2 separate regions of the Homo sapiens genome follow, and region 1 is linked to region 2. Evidence: fine-mapped expression QTL. A gene starts in region 2. The other region holds a variant in brackets. All regions are shown on one strand. Distances are from middle to middle.

Region 1 (11,138 bases), 27 kb before region 2:
GGAGGCTGAGGCAGGAGAATCTCTTGAACCTGGGAGGTAGGGGGTGGAGGTTGCAGTGAGTCAAGATTGCATCATTCCACTCCAGCCTGGGTGACAGAGCAAGATTTATTCTAAAAAAAACAAAAAACAAAAAAAAAACAAAAAACCTCTTATTAACCCCATTTATAGATGAAGAAACTGATCCTTCCAGAAGTTAGTAACTTCCCCATGCCTGCTTTGTTATGAAGCAGCCAAGTACGGATTTGATCCCAGACAACTGACTCGGAATCTGTGCTCTTGGCTACCACGTTCTATGAGTGAGGACACCTTATGTGTTCTCTTAAGCATGCAAGCGGGCAAGAAGTGTGGGTATGTTGAGGCTGAGGGCTAGTCCTGAGCTGGCTCTGGCCACCCCCCTGCTGCTCCCACAGGCAGCCCCGGTGACCCTGCAACTGCTCTTCTTGGATGGTGAAGAGGCGCTGAAGGAGTGGGGACCCAAGGACTCCCTTTACGGTTCCCGGCACCTGGCCCAGCTCATGGAGTCTATACCTCACAGCCCCGGCCCCACCAGGATCCAGGCTATTGTAAGACCAGGGTCCCCTGGCTTCTGGCGAGGGAGGGAGCAGGTTAAGCAGGGCTGGCGTCATCCTGCACGGGCCCCTCCAGTCCTAGCCTTTCTCCTTAGGAGCTCTTTATGCTTCTTGATCTCCTGGGAGCCCCCAATCCCACCTTCTACAGCCACTTCCCTCGCACGGTCCGCTGGTTCCATCGGCTGAGGAGCATTGGTAAGGGTGAATGCGGAGGTGGGCCCCAGCCCACCTGGGGTATGGGGTACAGGGCGGTGGGCTGGGGTAGGACAGGCACCTACACTCTAAAGGCTCATCCACCAGTCTGGGCCACATAGGGAGACCCCATCTTTTTTTTTTTTTTTTTTTTGAGATGGAGTCTCGCTCTGTCACTGAGACTGGAGTGCAGTGGCATGATCTTGGCTCACTGCAACCTCCACCTCCCAGGTTCAAGCCATTCTCCTGCCTCAGCCTCCCGAGTAGCTGGGACTACAGGCGCATGCCACCATGCCCAGCTAATTTTTGTATTTTAGTAGAGACAGAGTTTCACTATGTTGGCCAAGCTGGTCTTGAACTCCTGACCTCGTGATCCGTCCACCTCAGCCTCCCAAAGTGCTGGGATTACAGGCGTGAGCCACCGTGCCTGGTGACCCCATCTCTTAAAAAAAAATTAGCTGGGTGCAGTGGCATGCACCTGTCATCCCAGCTACTGGGGAGTATCCTTAGAGCCTGGGAGGTCAAGGCTATAGTGAGCCAAGATTGCGCCACTGCACTCCAGCCTGGGCAACAGAATGAGATCCTGTCTCAAAAAAATAAAAAATAAAAATAAAATAAAGGCTGGGCTTGGTGGCTCACACCTGTAATCCCAGCACTTTGAGAGGCAGGTGGATCACTTGAGCTCAGGAGTTTCAGACCAGCTTGGGCAATATGGCGAAACCCTGTCTCTACAAAATAAAAACAAACATTAGGCCAGGCGCGATGGCTCACACCTGTAATCCCAGCACTTTGGGAGGCCAAAGCGGGTGGATCACCTGAGGTTAGGAGTTTGAGACCAGCCTGGCCAACAGGGCGAAACCCCATCTCTACTAAAAATACAAAAAGTTAGCTGGGCGTGGTGACATGTGCCTGTAATCCTAGCTATTCGGGAGGCTGAAGCAGGAGAATGGCTTGAACCTGGGAGGCGGAGGTTGCAGTGAGCCGAGATCACGCCACTGCACTCCAGCCTGGGCAACAGAGCGAGACTCCATCTCAAAAAAAAAAAAAAAAAAAATTAGCCAGGCATGGTGGCACCTGCCTGCAGTCCCAGTGACTTGGGAGGCTGAAGTGGTAGGATCACTTGAGTCTGGGAGGTCGAGGCTGCAGTAAGCTGTGATCACACCACTGCACTCCAGCCTGGGGACAGAGTGAGACTCTGTCTCAAAAAAAAGTAATAATAAAAATTAAAATTAAAAAAATTAAAAATTGTTTTTAAAAATAAAGGCTTGGCTGGGCGCAATGGTTCACGCCTGTAATCCCAATACTTTGGGAGACTAAGGTAGGTGGATCACAAGGTCAGGAGTTTGAGACCAGCCTGGCGAATATGGTAAAACCCTATCTCTACTAAAAATACAAAAATTAGCTGGGTGTGGTAGCGTGTGCCTGTAGTCCTAGCTACTCCGGAGGCTCAGGCAGAAGAATCGCTTGTACCTGGGAGCACAGGTTGCAGTGAGCTGAAATTGTGCCACTGCACTCCAGCCTGGGTGACAGAGCGAGACTCTGTCACTAAATAAATAAATAAATAAACAAATAAATAAATAAGAAAATAAAATAAAGGCTCACCCAGCCTTTCCTCTACCTCCCTAGCCTTTCTAAGGAACTAGAGATTAGTAATAGTGATTACCAGACAGGGGCTCTAAGGTGAGACAGCCGTGGTTTCCAATCTTACCAGCTGGATGAACTTGGACAAGTGGCTTCATTTCTTTGAGCCTCAGTTTCCTATCTGTAAAACGGCCAGTGGGGGCCGGGCCTGGTGGCTCATGCCTGTAATCCCAGCACTTTGGGAGGCCGAGGTGGGCGAATCACAAGGTCAGCAGTTCGAGACCAGCTTGGCCAATATGGTGAAACCCCATCTCTACTAATAATACACAAATTAGCTGGGTGTGGTGGTGGGCGCCTGTACTCCCAGCTACTCAGGAGGCTGAGGCAGGAGAATTGCTTGAACCCGGGAGGCGGAGGTTGCAGTGAGCCGAGATTGTGCTACTGCACTCCAGCCTGGCGACAGAGCAAGACTCTGTCTCAAAAAAAAAAAAAAAAAAAAGGCCGGAGGGCCCAGACATAGTGGCTCATGCCTGTAGTCCCAGAAATTTGAGTGACCAAGGCAGGAAGATCACATGAACCCAGAAGTTTGAGGCCAGCCCGGGCAACACAGGAAGATCCCATTTCTACACACACGCGCACACACACACACACACACAATTACCCAGGCATGGGGGCATGCGCCTGAAGTCCTAGCTATTTGGGAGGCTGAGACTGAAGGATCACTTAGGCCAGCGAGATTAAGGCTGCACTGAGCTGGGATTGTCCCACTGCACTCCAGTGTGGGTGAGAGAGCAAGATCTTTTTTTTTTTTTTTGGAGACAGAATCTTACTCTGTCACCCAGGCTGGAGTGCAGTGGTGCAATCTCAGCTCACTGCAACCTCCACCTCCCAGGTTCAAGCAATTCTCCTGCCTCAGCCTCCCAAGTAGCTGGGATTACAGGCGCCCACCACCACACCCAGCTAATTTTTGTATTTTTAGTAGAGACAGGGTTTCACCATGTTGGCCAAGCTGGTTTCGAACTCCTGACCTCAGGTGATCCACCTGCCTTGGTCTCCCTAAGTGCTGGGATTACAGGCATGAGCCACCACACCAGGCCACAAGATCTTGTCTCAAAAAAAAGAATGTCTATGTCTTAGACTCTGAGGGATTGAATGAGACCAGGAACATAGTGAGCCCACAGGAAGGAGTAACTGGCATTCACTCTTGTTGGGCTGACCAGGGCTTTGTCTCTGGGTGCTCTGCCTTCCTCTGATTTGTGGACTGGGGACCTTCGACTACTAAGGACTAACCCTTCCTCTCTAATCGCCCCCACTTCCAGAGAAGCGTCTGCACCGTTTGAACCTGCTGCAGTCTCATCCCCAGGAAGTGATGTACTTCCAACCCGGGGAGCCCTTTGGCTCTGTGGAAGACGACCACATCCCCTTCCTCCGCAGAGGTACCAGCTGCAGGGAGGGATGGAGGGTGGGTGTCCAAGGAAGCCACAAATTGGAACTGGCCAAGTCCCCTTCCCAGGGCTGGGGAATGGTGCTAAGTGGCCTTAACCTCTTTGTGCTTTGATTTATTCATCTGTAAAATGGGGATAATACTCCCTATCTTAGAGTATTGTTGAGGGGATTGAACATGCTAACACCGGTAAAGACCTTACTTGGACCAGCACCCAGCACATAGCAAGCATTCCAGAAATGTTTGCAGCTGGGCACGGTGGTTCACAGCTGTAATCCCAGCACTTTGGGAGGCTGAGCGGGGTGGCGGGGGGGGATCCTTGAGCCCAGGAGTTTGAAACCAGCCTGGGCAACATGGCATAAATCTTGTCTTTACTAAAAATACAAAAAAATTAGCCGGGCATGGTGGTTCACACCTATAGTCCCAGCTACTCGAGAGGCTGAAGTGGGAGGAGCACTTGGGCCTGGGAAGTCAAGGCTGCAGTAAGCCTTGATTGAGCCACTGCACTCTAGCCTGGACAACAGAGGGTGATGATATCTCAAAAAAAAAAAAAGTGCCAGGCTGGGCATGGTGGCTCACACCTGTAATCCTAGCACGTTGGGAGCCTGAGGCGGGCAGATCACCTGAGGTCAGTAGTTTGAGACCAGCCTGGCCAACATGATGAAACCCCATCTCTACTAAAAATACAAAAATTAGACAGGTGTCGTGGTGCCTGCCTATAATCCCAGCTACCCGGGAGGCTAAGACGGTAGAATCGCTGGAACCTGGGAGGCAGAGGCTGCAGTGAGCCGAGATCACGCCACTGCACTCCAGCCTGGGCGACAGAGTGAGACTCTGTCTCAAAAAAAAAAAAAAAGTGCCAGAACATAGTATCTTTCACCAGTGTGTGGTGGCAAGGCAAGGTTACCTAGAGGTTGGGCTTGGGCTCCTGGGTTGTGGTGGGCTGCAGTGGACCTGACAAAGTCTCCTCTGTCACTTCAGGGGTACCCGTGCTCCATCTCATCTCCACGCCCTTCCCTGCTGTCTGGCACACCCCTGCGGACACCGAGGTCAATCTCCACCCACCCACGGTACACAACTT[G/A]TGCCGCATTCTCGCTGTGTTCCTGGCTGAATACCTGGGGCTCTAGCGTGCTTGGCCAATGACTGTGGAGAGGACTGTGAGAGAGAAGGTCCCAGCGGGGGCCAGTGAAGCTCAGGCAGGATCTGCCTAGGGTGTGCTGGTTTGTCCTTTTCATACCTTTGTCTCCTAATTGTGCTACAATTGGAAGACCTTCTTTCTTTTGATTGTCTCAAGCTGCCACCCTTCAAGGACAGGGAAGAGACCACTGTGGGATGACAGCCAGAGGAATAAGAACTTGCTCCCTCCCCAGAGGTAAACACTTGGTCCAAAGGTTTGCAGGGACCAAATACTGTTCTTTTTTTTTTTGAGACGGAGTCTCACTGTGTTGCCCAGGCTGGAGTGCAGTGGTGCGATCTCGGCTCACTGCAAACTCCGCCTCCTGGGTTCACGCCATTCTCCTGCCTCAGCCTCCCAAGTAGCTGGGACTACAGGTGCCCGCCACCACGCTGGCTAATTTTTTGTATTTTTAGTAGAGACGGGGTTTCACCGTGTTAGCCAGGATGGTCTCGATCTCCTGACCTTGTAATCCGCCAGCCTCGGCCTCCCAAAGTGCTGGGATTACAGGTGTGAGCCACCGCACCTGGCAAAATGCTGTTCTTTAAGTCAGCGAACTGAAAAAGTAAAAGACTGCTGGGTGTGGTGGCTCACACCTGTAATCCCAACACTTTGAGAGGCTGAGGGGGAAGGATCACCCGAGGTCAGGAGTTTGAGACCAGCCTGGTCAACATGGCGAAACCCTGTCTCTACTAAAAATACAATAATTAGCTGGGCATGGTGGTGGGCGCCTGTAATCTCAGCTGCTTGGGAGGCTGAGGCAGGAGAATCACTTGTACGCAGGAGGCGGAGGTTGCAGTGAGCCAAGATCACACCACTGCACTCCAGCCTGGGCAACAGAGCGAGACTCCATCTCAATAAATAAATAAATAAATAAATATTTTTTAAAAAGAGTAAAAGACTAAAAGACTATTACTGGTCTGGCCCAGTGATGCCACCCAGCTAGATGAATTCTCTGTGGTTTGTGTTGTGTCAGTTCATTCTCCAGAACAGCAGCCTTGCTACTGCACCAGTCCTAACCTAACTCCCACACGGGGCACACAGAGGATGTCCTCATAACCAGGCACAGAGGAGACAGAAGCTCATATTTTGGAAGTCCAGATTCTTCCAGACCCAGTGGGTAATAAGCCATTGTTTCTGGCTGGGCATGGTGGTTCACACCTGTAATCCCAGCTCTTTGGGAGTCAGAGGCAGAGGGATAGCTTGAGCTCAGGAGTTTGAGACCAGCCTGGGCAACAGAGCATGACCCCATTCTCCAGAAAAAAGAAAGAAAAAAAAAAGCGTAACCAATGTTTCTGCAAAACACCACCTGCATAAGCCAGGTGTGGTGGTGCACACCCTGTAGTCTCAGCTATTCAGGAGGCTGAGGTGAGAGAATCCCATGAACCCAAGAGTTCAAGACCAGCCTGGGCAACACAGTGACACCCTGTCTCAAAACAAACACCACCACCACCAACAACAACAAAAAAGGCCATTCTGTAGAACTCGTGTAAATAGACATTGCATGACAAGGGGGATCTGAAATCCAAGAAGAGGGTGAGACAACATAAAATGAGTTTCCTCACTGCATCATGTGAATTTTTAAGACAGAACCCAGAGGCTCCCAAAGTATTTCACTATGGAACACTTTTTATTGGGAAGCACTTCATAGAACTAGGATACTTCGGCCGGGCATGGTGGGTCACACCTGAAATCCCAGCACTTTGGGAGGCCGAGGCCAGCAGTTCAGCTGAGCTCAGGAGTTCGAGAGCAGCCTGGACAACATGATGAAACCCCATCTCTACTAAAAATACAAAAATTAGCCAGGTGTGGTGGCATGAGCCTGTAATCCCAGCTACTTGGGAGGCTGAAACAGGAGAATTGTTGGAACCTGGTGGCAGAGGCTACAGTGAGCCAAAATCACGCCACTGCACTCCAGCCTGGGCAATAGAGCGAGGCTGTCTCAACAAACAAACAAAATACAACAACAACAAAAAGAACTAGGATACCTCAGAAGGTACTTTGGAAAACATGGGGTTTTGAAAGTCTGAGAGCATCTATGAGAGGAATGGGTAAGACAGATCTAGATTTACCGCAGAGTAGTTAGGGCACACTGTCTTTCCCCTTCAGCTGTTGGTACAGCACTGTGAGATGGCAGTGTAACTGCAAACTCCAATGAGCAAGTATTTCCCAACCCTACCTAATTTTCAGACTCAGCTGGGGTGCTCATTAAAAAATGCAGACTGGGTGCAGTGGCTCATGGCTGCAATCTCAGCACTTTGAGAGGTTGAAGTGGGAGGATCACTTGAGCCCAGGAGGTTTTTCTTTTTGAGGCGGAGTCTCGCTCTGTCACCCAGGCTGGAGCGCAGTGCTGCAATGCTGGCTCACTGCAACCTCCGCCTCCCGGGTACGAGCGATTCTCCCGCCTCAGTCTCCCAAATAGCTAGGACTACAGGTGCGTGCCACCACGCCTGGCTAATGTTTGTATTTTTAGTAGAGACAGGGTTTCACCGTGTTAGCCAAGATGGTCTCGATCTCCTGACCTCGTGATCCGCCTGTCTCGGCCTCCCAAAATGCTGGGATTACAGGCGTGAGCCACCGTGCCTGGCCCACGCTGTCCTTAAGGAGACACTTTGGTGCATACACAGCTGCTCAGCAAACCGACTCAAAAGAAAAACCTGAGACAGATGGCACCTGGAAGCAGTCCTACGCTGTGTAGGTGAGCATCTGCCCTCCAAATCAGCTCCAGGGCTGAAACTCGGGGTATCAAATGAGAGGATAAACATAGGTCCTCAATTTAGGTTCTTCCACATTCGCTGACATTTATTGAGCATCTACTATGTGCCAGGCATCATGAGAACTTTTTTTTTTTTTTAAGATGGAGTTTCGCTCTTGTCACCCAGGCTGGAGTTGCAGTGGCACAATCTCGGCTCACTGCAACCTCCACCTCCTGGGTTCAAGCGATTCTTCTTCATCAGCCTCTGGAGTAGCTGATTACAGGCATGTGCTACCATGCCCAGCTAATTTTTGTATTTTCTTGGTTTGGGGGAGAGAGTCTTACTCTGTCGCCCAGGCTGGAGTACAATGGCGAGATCTCAGCTCACTACAAACTCCACCTCCTGGGTTCAAGCGATTCTCCTGCCTCAATCTCCCAAGTAGCTGGGAATACAGGCACCTGCCACCATGCCCTGCTAATTTTTGTACTTTTTAGTAGAGATGGGACCATGTTGATCAGGTTGGTCTTGAACTCCTAACCTCAGGTGATCCACCTGCCTCGGCCTCCCACAGTGCTGAGATTACAGGCATCGAGCCACCATGCCTGGCCAATTTTTGCATATTTAGTAGAGATGAGTTTTGCCATGTTGGCCAGGCTGGTCTTGAACTCCTGACCTCAGGTGTCCACCCGCCTTGGCCTCCCAAAGTGCTGAGATTACAGGCGTGAGCCACCGTGCCCAGCCCATGAGAACTTTTTTTTTTTACATATACAAAACTATGTAGTCTCCCTGACTACAAATCCTGAAATAGGTACAATTTCAGTTCTCATTTTGCAGGTGAGGTGGCTGAGACTGAGAATTGCAAACGAGTTGTGTATGGTGTGCAAATTTTCACTCACAGCTGTGCTCGCAACCCCCATGTCCTATCTCCCTTCCAAAAAGTACCTGTGGCTGGGTGCGGTCACTCACCCCTGTAATCCCAGTCCTTTGGAAGGTTGAGGCAGGAGGACTGTTTGAGCCCAGAAGTTCCCGACCAGCCTGGGCAACAAAGACCCTGTCTCTACAAAAAAAATTAAAATTAGCTAGTATGGTGCCTGTGGTCCCAGCTACTTGGGAGGCTGAGGCAGGAGGATCTCCCGAGCCCAGGAGTTTGAGGTTACAGTCAGCTATGATTGTGTCACTGCACTCCGGCCTGGGTGACAGAATGAGACCCTGTCTCAAAAAAATAAAAATAAAAATACCCCAAATACACCCCCACCACTACCAAAAAAAAAAATACACTTGTGCCAGATGAAATTTGTTAAGAAAAAGTATCCATAGAATTTTAACTTTAATCTGCTTTATGCAGATTTTTGGCTTGAATCTGGGGTAAGAACTGTTAGCCCTGTTGTACAGATGAGGCTGCTGGTGCCTGGCAAGTTCCCGCAGCCAGCAAACCCTTTTATCTTTTTTTTTTTTTTTTCTAGACAGAGTCTCGCTCTGTCGCTCAGGCTGGAGTGCAGTGGCACGACCTCAGTTCAGTGCAACCTCTGGCTCCCGGGCTCAAGCAATTCTTCTGCCTCAGCCTCCCGAGTAGCTGGGACTACAGCCACACGCCACCACGCCCGGCTGATTTTTGTATTTTTAGTAGAGACAGGGTTTCACTGTATTGGCCAGGCTGGTCTCAAATTCCTGATGTCACAATCCACCGCCTCGGCCTCCCGAAGTGCTGAGATTACAGGCATGAGCCACTGTGCCCAGCCTTGCATTTTTCATTTGTAAAAGTTATGTCAGTGGGTTTTTTTTCCCTTTCCTACCTACTAGGCCATTTTGATTTTTTTTTTTTTTTTTTTTTTTAGTTTTGGCTTCCTTGCTGATAATTCCAAGCTTTTAAAATTTTTAAACAGTTTAAAATAAATTTTGTATTATAATCTGTGATTGACAGTTTCATCATGTGAAGCCTATGTGGGTGTTTTTGTTGTTTCTGCTGGTTCTTATTCATATTATTTCCATTTGTTTGGTTATTTGTGTACTACTCATTACCTGAAAAATTATTTGTGGTGGGCTGGGTGCGGTGGCTCACACCTGTAATCCCAACACTTTGGGAGACCAAGGCGGGCAGACTGCTTGAGGTCAAGAGTTCAAGACCAGCCTGGCCAACATGGTGAAACCCCATCTCTACCAAAAAAAAAAAAAAAAAAAAAAAAAAATTGCTGGGCGTGGTGGTGGGTCCCTGTAATCCCAGCTACTTGGGAAGCCTAGGCAGTAGAATCGCTTGAACCGGGGAGGCGGAGGTTGCAGTGAGCTGAGATTGTGCCACTGCACCGTAGCCTAGGCAACAGTGAGACTCCATATCCAAAAAAAAAAAAAAAAAAAAAAAAAAAGCCAGGCGTGGTGGCTCACACCTGTAATCCCAGCACTTTGGGAGGCCAAGGTGGGTCAGGAGTTCAAGACCAGACTGGCCAACATGGTGAAACCTTGTCTCTACTAAAAATACAAAAAATTAGCCAGGTGTGGTGGTGCGCACCTGTAGTTCCAGCTACTTGGCAGGTGAGGCAGGAGAATCACTTGAACCCAGGAAGCAGAGGTTGCAGTGTGCCGAGATCGCGCCACTGCGCTCCAGCCTGGGCAACAAGAGCGAAACTGCATCTCAAAACAAACAAACAAAAATATTTGTGGGGCTTCTAGATGACAGTTCCTTCCACAGGTGGACTTGTGTTTGTTTCTGCCAGACATGTCAGCTAGAAGTACCCTGTATCACACAGGACGTGAACCTGGCTGCGAACCTGTGCCGAGGGCCAGTCTGTGACCACAGATTATCAGAATCTTTCTTTTTTTTTCATTTGATTTCTGCCTCTTGAATACCTCTTCAGTCTTCCGGGTCATCCTTACCTGAGCTTGTAGCTCTCTGGAATCCCAGTTCCTGCAGTTGCTCACTGTGGGCTGGCTTTGGACTTGACTTTTGCCTGCTCCTTCCAGTAAGGCTGCCAAGTAGGAAACCCCAGTGTGTCCACATCAGCAAACACCCTGAGAGCAAATGTGGCTTCAGAGCCCCACATATCATTCTTTTTTTTTTTTTTTTTTTTTTGAGGCGGATTCTTGCTCTGTCTCCCAGGCTGGAGTGCAGTGGCGCAATCTCGGCTCACTGTAAGCTCCGCTCCCCGGGTTCACGCCATTCCCCTGCCTCAGCCTCCCGAGTAGCTGGGACTACAGGTACCCACCACTACACCCGGCTGATTTTTTGTATTTTTAGTAGAGATGGGGTTTCACTGTGTTAGCCAGGATGATCTCGAACCGCCCGCCTTGGCCTCCCAAAGTGCTTGGGATTACAGGAGTGAGCCACCGCGCCCGGCTCCCACATATCATTCTCTTAACTATTTGGCGTGGTGGGTCTTTACTGTATTTTATTGGCTATTTGATCCTTTGAAGGGCATTTTTTTTTCAGTTGTTCTCAACAGGAAGGTCCGAATAATCTAACTCACCCTCCCCACAAGATTCAAACCCAG
Region 2 (11,138 bases):
GTAAGCTGTGACTGCACCACTGTACTCCAGCCTGGGCAACAGAGACAGGCCCTGTCTCTAAATAAATAAATAGGCTGCGGTGGCTCAACCCTGTAATTCTAGCACTTTGGAAGGCTGAAGTGGGTAGATCACTTGAGCTCAGGAGATCGAGACCAGCCTTGGCAGCATGTATTATTCATCTCTACAAAAATTACAAAAATTAGCCAGGTGTGGTGGCATGCCCCTGTAGTCCCAGCTATTTTGGAGGCTGAGGTGAGAGGATGGCGTAAGATCAGGAGGTGGAAGTCACAGTGAGCCAAGATAGTGCCACTGCATTCCAGCCCGGGCAACAGAGCCAGACCCTGTCTCAAAAAATAAATGAACAAATAAATAAATAACTAAAACACTTGTGGGCCAGGTGCGGTGGCTCACACCTGTAATCCCAGCAGTTTGGGCAGGTCGACAGCTTGAGTCTCATTGTTCAGGACTAGCCTAGGCAACATGGCAAAACCCTGTCTCTACAAAAATTTTTTTAAAAATTAGCCGGGCATGGTGGTGTGCGCCTGCAGTCCCAGCTACTTGGAAGGCTGAGGTGGGAGGATGGCTTGAGCCCGGGAGGTAGAGGTTGCAGGGAGCCGAGACTGTACCACTGCACTCCAACCTGGGCAATAGAGCCAGACTTTGTCTCAAAAACTTAAATAAAAATGAATAAATAAACACATGGACTACTTAAGGAATGAACCCCATTTTCCAGATTCAAAGTTGGGCACTCTGACTCCAGAGTGCATTTTTCTCCCTGTTTTCTTTTTGTTTTGTTGTTGCTTTGATTTTTTTGTTTGTTTGTTTGAGATGGTCTCGCTCTATCACCCAGGCTATAGTGCAATGGGGCAATCAGAGCTCACTGCACCTTCCACCTCCTGGGCCCAAGTGATCCTCCCGCCTCAACCTCCAGAGGTGCTGGGACTATAGGCTCATGCCACCAAGCCTGACTAATTTTTTAAAAAATTTATTTGAGGCTGGGTGCAGTGGCTCATGCCTGTAATTTCAACACTTTGGAAGGCCAAGACGGGCGGATCATTTGAGCATAGGAGTTCAAGACCAGCCTGGGCAACATAGTGAGAACCCGTCTCTACAAAAAAGATACAAAAATTAGCTGTGTGTAGTGGCATGCAACTGTAGTCCCAGCTATACTCAGGAGGCTGAGGTGAGAGGATCACTTGAGCCCGGGAAGTTGAGGCTGCAGTGAGCTGAGATCGCACCACCGCACTCCAGCCTAGGAGACAGAGCAAGACTCCATCTAACAACAACAACAAAAAAAATGGCTGGGCACGGTGGCTCACACCTGTAATTCTAGCACTTTGGAAGGTTGAGGCGGGTGGATCACTTGAGGCCAGGAGTTTGGCACCATCCTGGCCAACACAACGAAATCTCGTCTCTACTAAAAATATAAAAATTAGCAGGGCATAGAGGTGTACACCTGTAATCCCAGCTACTTGGGAGGCTGAGGCAGGAGAATTGCTTGAACCCAAGAGGCGGACGTTGCAGTGAGCCAAGATCATGCCACTGCACTCCAGCCTGGGCAACAAAACGAGACTGTCTAAAAAAAAAAAAATTGTTTGTAGAGATGAATTTTCCCTGTGTTGCCCAAGCTGATTTCAAACTCCTGAGTTCCACTGATCCTGCCACCCTGTTAATCCCAGCCTCCCACCTTGGCCTCCCAAAGTGCCAAGATTATAAGCATGAGCCACCTTGCCCAGCCTCAGTACCTTTTCTTGAAAGAATAAAAATCATAGAAAGACCTCACACTTATTGAGAGCATAATACACCCCAGGCATTTTATATATGCCACCTCATCAGTTACCACGTCAACTCCTTACGAGAAGCTCAGAGTTTAAATGTGGTCCCATTTTTACATGAGAATACTGAGGCTGGCTGGGCACTGGGGCTCATGCCTGTAACCCCAGCACTTTGGGAGGCCTAGGCGGGTGGATCACTTGAGGTCAGGAGTTCAAGATCAGCCTGGGCAACGTGGTGAAACGCTGACTCTACAAAAATTAGGCAGGTGTGGTGACACACGCTTGTAGTCCCAGCTACTCAGGAGGCTGAGGTGGGAGGATCCCTTGATCCTGGGAGGTGGAAGTTGCAGTGAGCCAAGATGATGCCCCTGCATGCCAGCCAGGGCAACAAAGTGAGACCCTGGTTCAAAACAAAAAAAAAGAAAAAAAAAAAGAGGTCGGAGCAGTGGCTCACGCCTGTAATCCCAACACTTAGGGAAGTCAAGGAGGGTGCATCACCTGAGGTCAGGAGTTCGAGACCAGCCTGGCCAAGATGGTGAAACCTCATCTCTACTAAAAATACAAAAATTAGCTGGGCGTGGTGACACAAGCCTGTAATCTCAGCTACGCAGGAGGCTGAGGCAGAAGACATCATTTGAACCCGGGAGGCGGAGATTGCAGTGAGCCAAGATCACACCACTGGCCTCCAGCCTGGACAACAGTGAGACTCTGTCTCAAAAAAAAAAAAAAAGGGAAAAGAAAACTGAGGCCCAGAGTGGGAATGCAGCTTGGCCAAGGTCACACAGCAACAGAAGCAGGGTTTTGACCCTGCGCCTCTCTGAAGCCAGTGTTTTCAACCATAAGCTTACTATCACAGCCAATGAATTAAGCCCAGAAAGCTCACAATAAACCAAACTGTTTCAAGGTGAATTTACAAAGTTGTCAAACTGCCCAATGAGGCCTTAATGACCCAAAAGTTAAACGAACAAAAGCAAACTAACAACAACAACAACAAGAAAAACCTAGTTAGAAATATTTTCTCTTCACTGAAACACCTGGAGTAAGGCCAGACTGGGTATTTGGCGGGGACAGGAATGGGAATGGGGACACACTGAGTTTCCTTGTTCTTTTTTTTTGAGACAGTCTCACTCTGTCGCCCAGGCTGGAGTGCAGTGGCACAATCTTGGCTCACTGCAACCTCCACCTCCTGGGTTCAAGAGATTCTCCTGCCTCAGGCTCCTGAGTAGCTGGGACTACAGGCGCCCGCCACCACGCCCAGCTAATAGAGATGGGGTTTTGCCATGTTGGCCAGGCTGGTCTTGATCAAACTCTTGGCCTCGGGCAATCTGCCCGCAATGGCCTCCCAAAGTGTTGGGATTACAGGCATGAGCCACCATGCCCAGCCCACAGATTGAGTTTGTAAGCACACTCTCCAGAAGTCGTAATTGGATTTAGGAGCCCAGAGGTGGAGGGCAGGGACATGGTGACAACATGAGAGAGAAAGGAGACAGCCTGACATCTTCCCTCTTGGTTCCTCTCTACTGCCTTCTCTTTCCCACTGACATTCAAAAACAACAACTCACACGTACTGAGCCCTTCCATAAGTATTGGAGTAAGGGCTCATAAAGTAAGTTCCACTATACTGCATTATCTTCCCGAAACTTCTCACCTTCCTAGGGTTACTGATCCCATTTTATAGGTGAGAAGAACCCAAAAGAAGAACCCTTGCCCAGGGCCAGGCGTGGTGGCTCACGCCTGCAATCCCAACACTTTTGGAGGTTGAAGCAGGAAGACCCCTTAAGCCTAGGAATTTGAGACCAGCCTGGGCAACAAAGTAAGACCCGCGTCTCTACAAAAATAAAAATAAAAAATTAGCCGTGTGTAATAAAAAATTAGTCCCAGCTACTTGGGAGGCTGAGGTGGGAGGATCGCCTGAGCCCAGGAGGTTGAGGCTGCAGTGAGTCATGATTGCGCCACTGCATTCCAGCCTGTCTGGGCAACAGAGCGAGACCCTGTCTTTAAAAAAATAAAAAGGCTGCGCGCAGTGGCTCACGCCTGTCATCCCAGCACTTTGGGACGCTGGGGCGGGCAGATCACCTGAGGTCGGGAGTTCAAGACCTGTCTCTACTAAAAATACAAAATTAACCAGACGTGGTGGCGCATGCCTGCAATCTCAGCTACTCGGGAGGCTGAGGCGGAGAATTGCTTGAACCCGGGAGGCGGAGGTTGCGGTGAGCCAAGATTGCACTCCGCCTGGGCAACAAGAGCGAAACTCCGCCTCAAAAACAAAACAAAACTAAACAAAAAACCATAAAAATAAATATAGGGCCAGGCGCAATGGCTCACGCCTGTTAATCCCAGCACTTTGGGAGGCCGAGGCGGGTGGATCACCTGAGGCCAGGAGTTCAAGACCAGCCTGACCAACATGCAGAAACCCTGTCTCTACTAAAACTACAAAAATTAGCCAGGGCGTGGTGGCACATGCTTGTAATCCCAACTACTCAGGAGGCTGAGGCAGGAGAATCGCTTGAACCCGGGAGGCAGAGGCTACAGTTAGCCATACCACTGCACTCCAGCCTGGGTGACAGAGGGAGACTGTCTCTAAATAAATAAATAAAAATAAATAAAAGACTTGCCTAAGGTCATATAGCAAGTAAATGGCAGAACTAATATTCTAGACTGCTTTGTTCGCTGTCTCTACTCATCACATTGTATATTTCAGTATGGAGAGAGGACTAAATTATAGTGCTGAAAGCACAGATTCTGAGCCAGGCTGCCAAGATCGGAATCCTGAGTCTAGCAATTAATGCTGGATAGCCTTGGGAAAGTTGCTTAATTTCTCTGTACTTCTGCTTCCTTTCTGTAAAATGGAGAAAATAACAGCACCTACCCCTCAGGGGTGTTATCAGAATTAAATGAGTTAATGTGTACAAACAGCTAAGGACAGGGCCAGGCATTTTGTAAAACAATAAGCGTTAGCTGTAATCCACAGTGGGGAGCCCCTACATGCTTCTGAGCTGGGGTGTGTGCCCAGATCAGTGCCAGCTTTTGAGAAAACGCCTCTGGGACTGGACTGGAAAGGAGGAAATCCATTAGCACCTGTAACCCAGTCACATTCCGGGGGCGGAGAACTTCCCACCAACAGCTCTGAGACTGAAACTTCACAGCCCAGCTCTCCCACTAATAGTAACGATTTTAATGACTCCCTTTAACCCTGTTCTCAGAGGCATGCTTGCTGTTCCCATACTACAGATAAGGGCACTGAGGCTCACAGATTTGTCCATGGCACAAAGGGGTGGAAGAATAGGGGATATGAATGCTGTACTTCTCATAGGGATAAACCATTACACTCTTCTAAATTCCACCGGGGAAGTGAGGGTGCGAAAGCCTGTCTCGATGGCCCTTTCTGGCCGTATTATCCTACAGTTCTGTGCCTGTCCAGCTTACCGGGAGTCTCTGGCGGGACTAGGGAAATTATCACTACATCCAGGCCCCTAATTTCACGCTCCTTACCCCACCCTCAGTCCTGGAGCCTAAACCCACACTCTATCCTACCACTGATTTCTCCCTCCTACCTCCTCAACTTGCCTTCCTGCCCCCAATCCGATCCAGAGGCCCCAACCCATTGCGTCCACCGTTCGCCTGTCCCTTGGAGCTTCCAGACCCCCTCACTCATCCTAACCCTGATCCTCATACCCTCGCCGCAGGTTAAGCCCCCATCGAAATCGACCCCTTCAGGGCCTCTACCTGGATGTCCAGCCCAGTCTCCAACTCGGGGCCCACTTCCCCAGCTCTGAGCCCCTTTACAATCAATTCCAAAGCTCCACTCCCACCCCACCTCCAAGACCCCTCCCCAAGCCACCATTCTTCTACTACTACCTCCGGCTCCCATTCCTCCCAGTCCTCTCCCCCAGGCAATCTCCCCTCACCCAGCCCCTTCTTTCGCCCCTGCCTCTTCCCCCTCGTCACCCGGTCCCGAACCCCCGTCCCGACTCTCCAGCGCCCCCGGCCCGCGCCTGGGCTCTCACCATCGCCGCGCGCTGCATCTCCCTCGGCTACGCGGGTTTCCCCCACTCGCTCCTCTCCAGCCTCCCCTTCCGGGTTCTCGTCCCGAAGCCCGCTGGGAATTGAAGTCCGGGCAGCCACGGACTACATCCCCCAGAAGGCAGCACGGTCAAGCTTGGAGGTGGGGTAGGAAGCAAATTAGGCGGGCGGAGGAAAAGAACGACTCGAACTCCCGGGAGACAAAGCCGGGGAGGACTTGGCAGCGCAAGCGCAGGGTGCTTCCCCGCTGGGCGCGCTGGGAGATGGAGTCTAGCCAGGAGGGCTCCATTTTTGCCCGAGGCCCTTGGGAAGGGAATTGAGAATATTGCAATAGGGTGTTGGTGAGGGGTGGAGAGTTGGGGAAGAGCAAATTTATTGATTCATTTGTGCCGATCAACACAATAGCTAACAGCTCCTTGTGCTTTTCCAAACTCCTTCCCATCCATCCCCTTCTTTTTTTTTTTTTTTTTGAGACGGAGTCTTGCTCTGTCACCCAGGCTGGAGTGCAGTGGCGCAATTTCGGCTCACTGCAACCTCCGCCTCCTGGGTTCAAGCGATTCTCCTGCCTGAGCCTCCTGAGTAGCTGGGATTACAGGAGCCCGCCACCACGCCCGGCTAGTTTTTGTATTTTTAGTAAAAACGGAGTTTCACCATGTTGGTCAGGCTGGTCTTGAACTCCTGACCTCATGATCCACCCGCCTCGGCCTCCCAAAGTGCTGGGATTACAGGCGTGAGCCACCGCGCCCGGCCCGTCCCCTCCTTTCTTACCTCCTGATTTACAAATGAGAAAATTAAGCCTTAGGAGGAAGGAAAGTCCCATACATTAGGAGTTAGTCCACATCATAGAATAGCAGCTCCACATCGCTCGAGCCCAGGAGTTCGAGGCAGTGAGCTAGTGTTACACCACCGCCCTCCATGCAGTTCAGCCTGGGCGACAGAATGAGACCCTGCTGCCTCTTAAAATAAAAGAAGGCCGGGCGCGGTGGCTCACGCCTGTAGTCACAGCACTTTGGGAGGCCGAGGCGGGCTGATCACAAGGTCAGGAGATCAAGACCATCCTGGCTAACACACTGAAACCCCATCTCTACTAAAAATACAAAAAATTAGCCGGGCTGGGTGGCGGGTGCCTGTAGTCCCAGCTACTCGGGAGGCTAAGGCAAGAGAATGGCGTGAACCCAGGAGGCGGAGCTTGCAGTGAGCCGAGATCGCGCCACTGCACTCCAGCCTGGGGGACAGAGCGAGATTCCGTCTCAAAAAAAAAAAAAAGAAGAAGAAGAAGAAGAAGCTCCAGGAGGGCAGAGATCTTTGTGTACCTTGTTCAAGCACCTAGAACAGCGTAAACATGTGTTCAGTAAATATTTATTGCATCGGAACTATATGCCAGACACCCTACAGACAACCCTGGTAGGAATTACAATCCCAAATTTATAAGGCAGAAAGAGATTAAGCCTCTTGTCGCTGGCAACACAGCCAAGAAAACGATTTGAACTGAAATGTATTGGATTTCAGGGTTTCTACTCTTGACTAGGTCGTTAGATCATCTCCCCTTAAGACGTATTTTCCAGGCTGGGTGCGGTGGCTCATGCTTATAATCTCAGCCGGGAGACTGGCTTTAGTCCAGGAGTTTAAGACCAAACTAGGCAGCAAAGTGAGACCCTCGTCTCTACCAAAAAAAAAAAAAAAAAAAGCCCAAATCTTTTATTCTTTTTCTTTCTTTTTTTTCCTTTTTTTTTTTTTTTTTTTTTTTGAGACAGAGTCTTGCTCTGTCGCCCAGGCTGGAGTGCAGTGGCGATACCAGCTCATTCAACCTCCACCTCCCAGGTTCAAATGATTCTCCTGCCTCAGCCTCTGGAGTAGTTGGGACTACAGGCGCGCCCCACCATGCCCGGCTAATTTTTGTATTTTTAGCCGAGACGGGGTTTCACCATTGTTGGCCAGGCTGGTCTGGAACTCCTGACCTCAAGTGATCCGCCCGCCTCGTCCTCCCAAGAAGGCCCAATTCAAATGGCCCTCCTCTTTGAATCCTTTCCCAACGTATTGTTCTCTGCATTAACCGAGTTCCCGTCTCACCGGATTCTCATGGTCTCGGAGGTTCTCACGGTCTTCTCGATTGTACTGGGAAGACAGTGGCTAAGTTCCCACCATCTAGCCTGGTGCTTGGCACACAGGAGGCCCTCATGAATCACGAACTGAAGGGAAAAGGTGGAAATGGGACATCATAGGGCCAGAAGGGACACAGGCGAGCTCGCTCTCTCTCTCTTCCTGAGAGTTGGCAGTTGAGGAAACCCAGCCTACTTGGGATGCAACGGCCCTGGACCACGCGGGTCGTGCAGGGGCGTGACCGCTTAAAAAGGCGGGTGGCTGAGCGGGCGCTGATTGGTCACCTAGCGGCTCACGCCGACCAAGGCCTTGTCAGAAGGCTCGAGGCCGAGCTCACGCTGTGCAAGACGACAGGGCCCTTCCCGAGGCGCGCGTGCGCACGGCCACTTGCACCCTGCCCTTTCAACCCCGTCGTCTCGTGCCCAGCACATCTTGGCTGGAACTGGTAGGGGCGTGGCCTGGCCTCAGGAACGCACTCTTGCTCTGCTCCTCACGCCTCGCGCAGGATCCTCGCGCCGGGAGGATTCGCACCCAACCCCAAGCCCGGTTGGGAACGTGGTGTCCGAGACCGTCTGGGATCCCCGCGCGCACGGCCGGCTTCCCGGGACCCGCGCGAGACGCTGTCTGATCGGGCTCCCTAGAGTGGGGCCCGGAGAAACCAGAACGGCGGGGGCAGCCTCACGCCATTTTGCACGCCCTGAGGCGGGTGCTGGAGGCCAAGGGGAATGGGGCGCGGGGCAGGGGGCCTCCCCCAGCACTAGCTGGGCTTAGGGGAACCCGGGATCCCCACAGGAGCTTCCCTCGGTGGGGGGCTCAGGGGAATAGAACATGCTCTGGGTGCAGGGCCACGGGCGACGGAGTTTGGGTTTGAAGCCGGGGGTCCAGGTTCGAGTTTGAGGAACGGAAGACTCTGTTTGTGTTGGGAATCCGGGCTCTCGAGTTCTGATCTGGGATCTCGGGATTTGTGTCTAGGGGTGACTAGTTCTGGAATCTGAAGAGCTTGAGTTTTGTGACTGGAAGCTTTCTCCTTGGAATCCAGAGATCCCAATTTGGGGATCTGGAAGTCTTAGTTCTGAGTTATGATGTAACATTTTGAGAGTCTGGAGCCTGATTTGGGGCAACTGAAGCCTCAGTATAGATTTAGGGCCTAAATCCCAATGTAGAGTATGAAGCTTTAGGATCTGGAGTCGCAGTTTGAGTCTTTAGAAGCACGTTTTAGGGCCTGGAGTGCCCACATTGAGTATGGGAGCTCCAGTTTTAGGGTCTGGGGTTTCAGAGTAGGACCCACATTCGAGATCTCAGTTTTAGGGTTGGGGCCACAATTTGAGGGACAGTTTGGACGTCTAAGAGGTCAATCTGGAGAAGTGAGATTTGTTTCATAGGGGCCTGGATTTCTTATCTTAGGATATAGGTTCATAGTGTTACAGCTTGCAGTCTGTAATCTTAGTATTAGGATCATATTTGAAGATCAGAAGTTGACAGTTTGAGGGTCTGGGGTATCTCAGTATTAGAATTTAGGGTTTGTAGGTTTGGGAGGGCTCCTTTTTTTTTGTTTTTGAGACAAGGTCTCACTTTGTCATCCAGGCTGGAGTGCAGTAGTGCGATTTTAGCTCACTGCAGCCTTGACCTCCTGGGCTCAAACCATCCCCCCACCTCAGGCTCCCAAGTAGCTGGGACTACAAGCATGTGCCACTATGCCCAGGTAATTTTTTTTTTTTTTTTGTAGAGGTGGAGTTTTGTCATATTGCCAGGCTGGTCTCAAACTCCTGAGATCAAGCAATCCTCCTGCCTTGGCCTCCCAAAGTGCTAGGATTACAGGCGTGAGCCACTGTACCTGGCTTTGGGAGGGCTCCAAAGTGAGGATTTAGGTCCTCATTTTGGGACTCTAAAGTATTAGTTTTAGTGCCTTTTTAGAGGTTTAGGGGTTTGTTTTTGTTTTTGTTTTTTGAGACACAGTCTCACTCTGTTGTCCAGGCTGGAGTGCAGTGGCTTAATCCTGGCTCAGTGCAACCTCCGCCTCCCAGGTTCAAGTGATTCTCCTGCCTCAGCCTCCCAAGTAGCTGGGATTACAGTCGTGCACCACCACGCCCGGCTAATTTTTGTATTTTTAGTAGAGATGGGGTTTCACCATGTTGGCCAGGCTGGTCTCAAACTCCTGACCTCGAGTGATTTGCCTGCCTCGGCCTCCCAGAATGCTGGGATTACAGGTGTGAGCTACCACTTCTGGCCAAGGTTTAGCTGTTTAATTTGGGTCTTTGGGCCCATAATTTGTTGGGGCTAGGGACTCTTATTTTGGGATCTCTGGGTGCTCAAAGGAGCATCATAGGGAAGATGAAGGGTGCCCATCAGGGTTCCTGCCCATCCTTCCTGCAATCCCAGAGGTCACTAATCATTCTTTTTCCCTCTTTGCAGATGTTTGGTTCCAGCAGATACTTGGGTTCCTCTGAACAGCCCAGAGCTAATTCACTGGGTCCCAGTGACAGGTAAGGGCTTGCCCCATCTCCCTTATAGCCCCAGCCACTCTCATTGAATAATAATAACAAAAACATTTGCTGAGCATTTACCGTTTGCTAGACTCTTTGCCAAACATTTTGTTTGTATGATAACTGTTAATCCATACAACAATCTCATGAGGAAGTTGTGTACAAAGATGCCTACCATTTTCCAGATGAGAGTACTCTGAGGTGATCGGCAAAGATCATTGCTTATTTATTTATTTATTTATTTTTGAGACAGGGTTTCACTCCTGTTGCCCAGGCTGGAGTGCAGTGTTGCGATCCCAGCTCACTGCAACCTCCGCCTCCTGAACTCAAGTGATTCTCCTGCCTCAGCCTCCCCAGTAGCTGGGACTACAGGCTCATGCCTCCATGCCTGGCTAATTTTTGTATTTTTTGTAAAGATAGGGTTTTGCCATTTTCCCCAGGCTAGTCTTCAACTCCTGGCTTCAAGTGATCTGCCTGTCTCAGCCTCCCAAAGTGCTGGGATTACAGGTGTAAGCCACCATGCCCAGCCCATTTCTTTTTTTATTTTTAGGGCAAAGATAACTTCTAAGGTCCTTGCAGCCTGTGACATTCTGAGTTTGTTTGTTTTCAGAGTTAGGGTATCACTCTGTTGCCCACGTTAGAGTGCAGTGGTGGCATCATAGCTCACTATAGCCTCGGACTCCTGGGTTTGAGCCTGGGCTTGATCCTCCTGCTTCAGCCTTCCGAACAGCTAAGATTACAGGCACATGCCACCACA

What was found.
Region 1: its variant is fine-mapped to the expression of FBXO46 in whole blood (TOPMed, PIP above 0.99).

What each region holds. Positions count from the first base shown.
Region 1 is chr19:45,698,137-45,709,274 of GRCh38, forward strand. It overlaps QPCTL (glutaminyl-peptide cyclotransferase like), which reads left to right. Exons shown (of 7, transcript NM_017659.4): 4 at 411-563; 5 at 665-764; 6 at 3,662-3,778; 7 at 4,768-5,851. The coding sequence ends at 4,913. Among named protein-coding and RNA genes, the nearest start is that of QPCTL, 11 kb to the left of the region's middle. RefSeq lists an enhancer at 8,794-9,023. The variant G/A (reference allele first, on the strand shown) is at 4,868.
Region 2 is chr19:45,725,067-45,736,204 of GRCh38, forward strand. It overlaps FBXO46 (F-box protein 46), which reads right to left and starts at 5,830. Exons shown (of 2, transcript NM_001080469.2): 1 at 5,783-5,830. It overlaps MEIOSIN (meiosis initiator), which reads left to right and starts at 8,373. Exons shown (of 15, transcript NM_001310124.2): 1 at 8,373-8,600; 2 at 10,311-10,381. The coding sequence starts at 10,311. RefSeq lists a silencer at 4,685-4,979 and enhancers at 5,828-5,937, 6,028-6,157.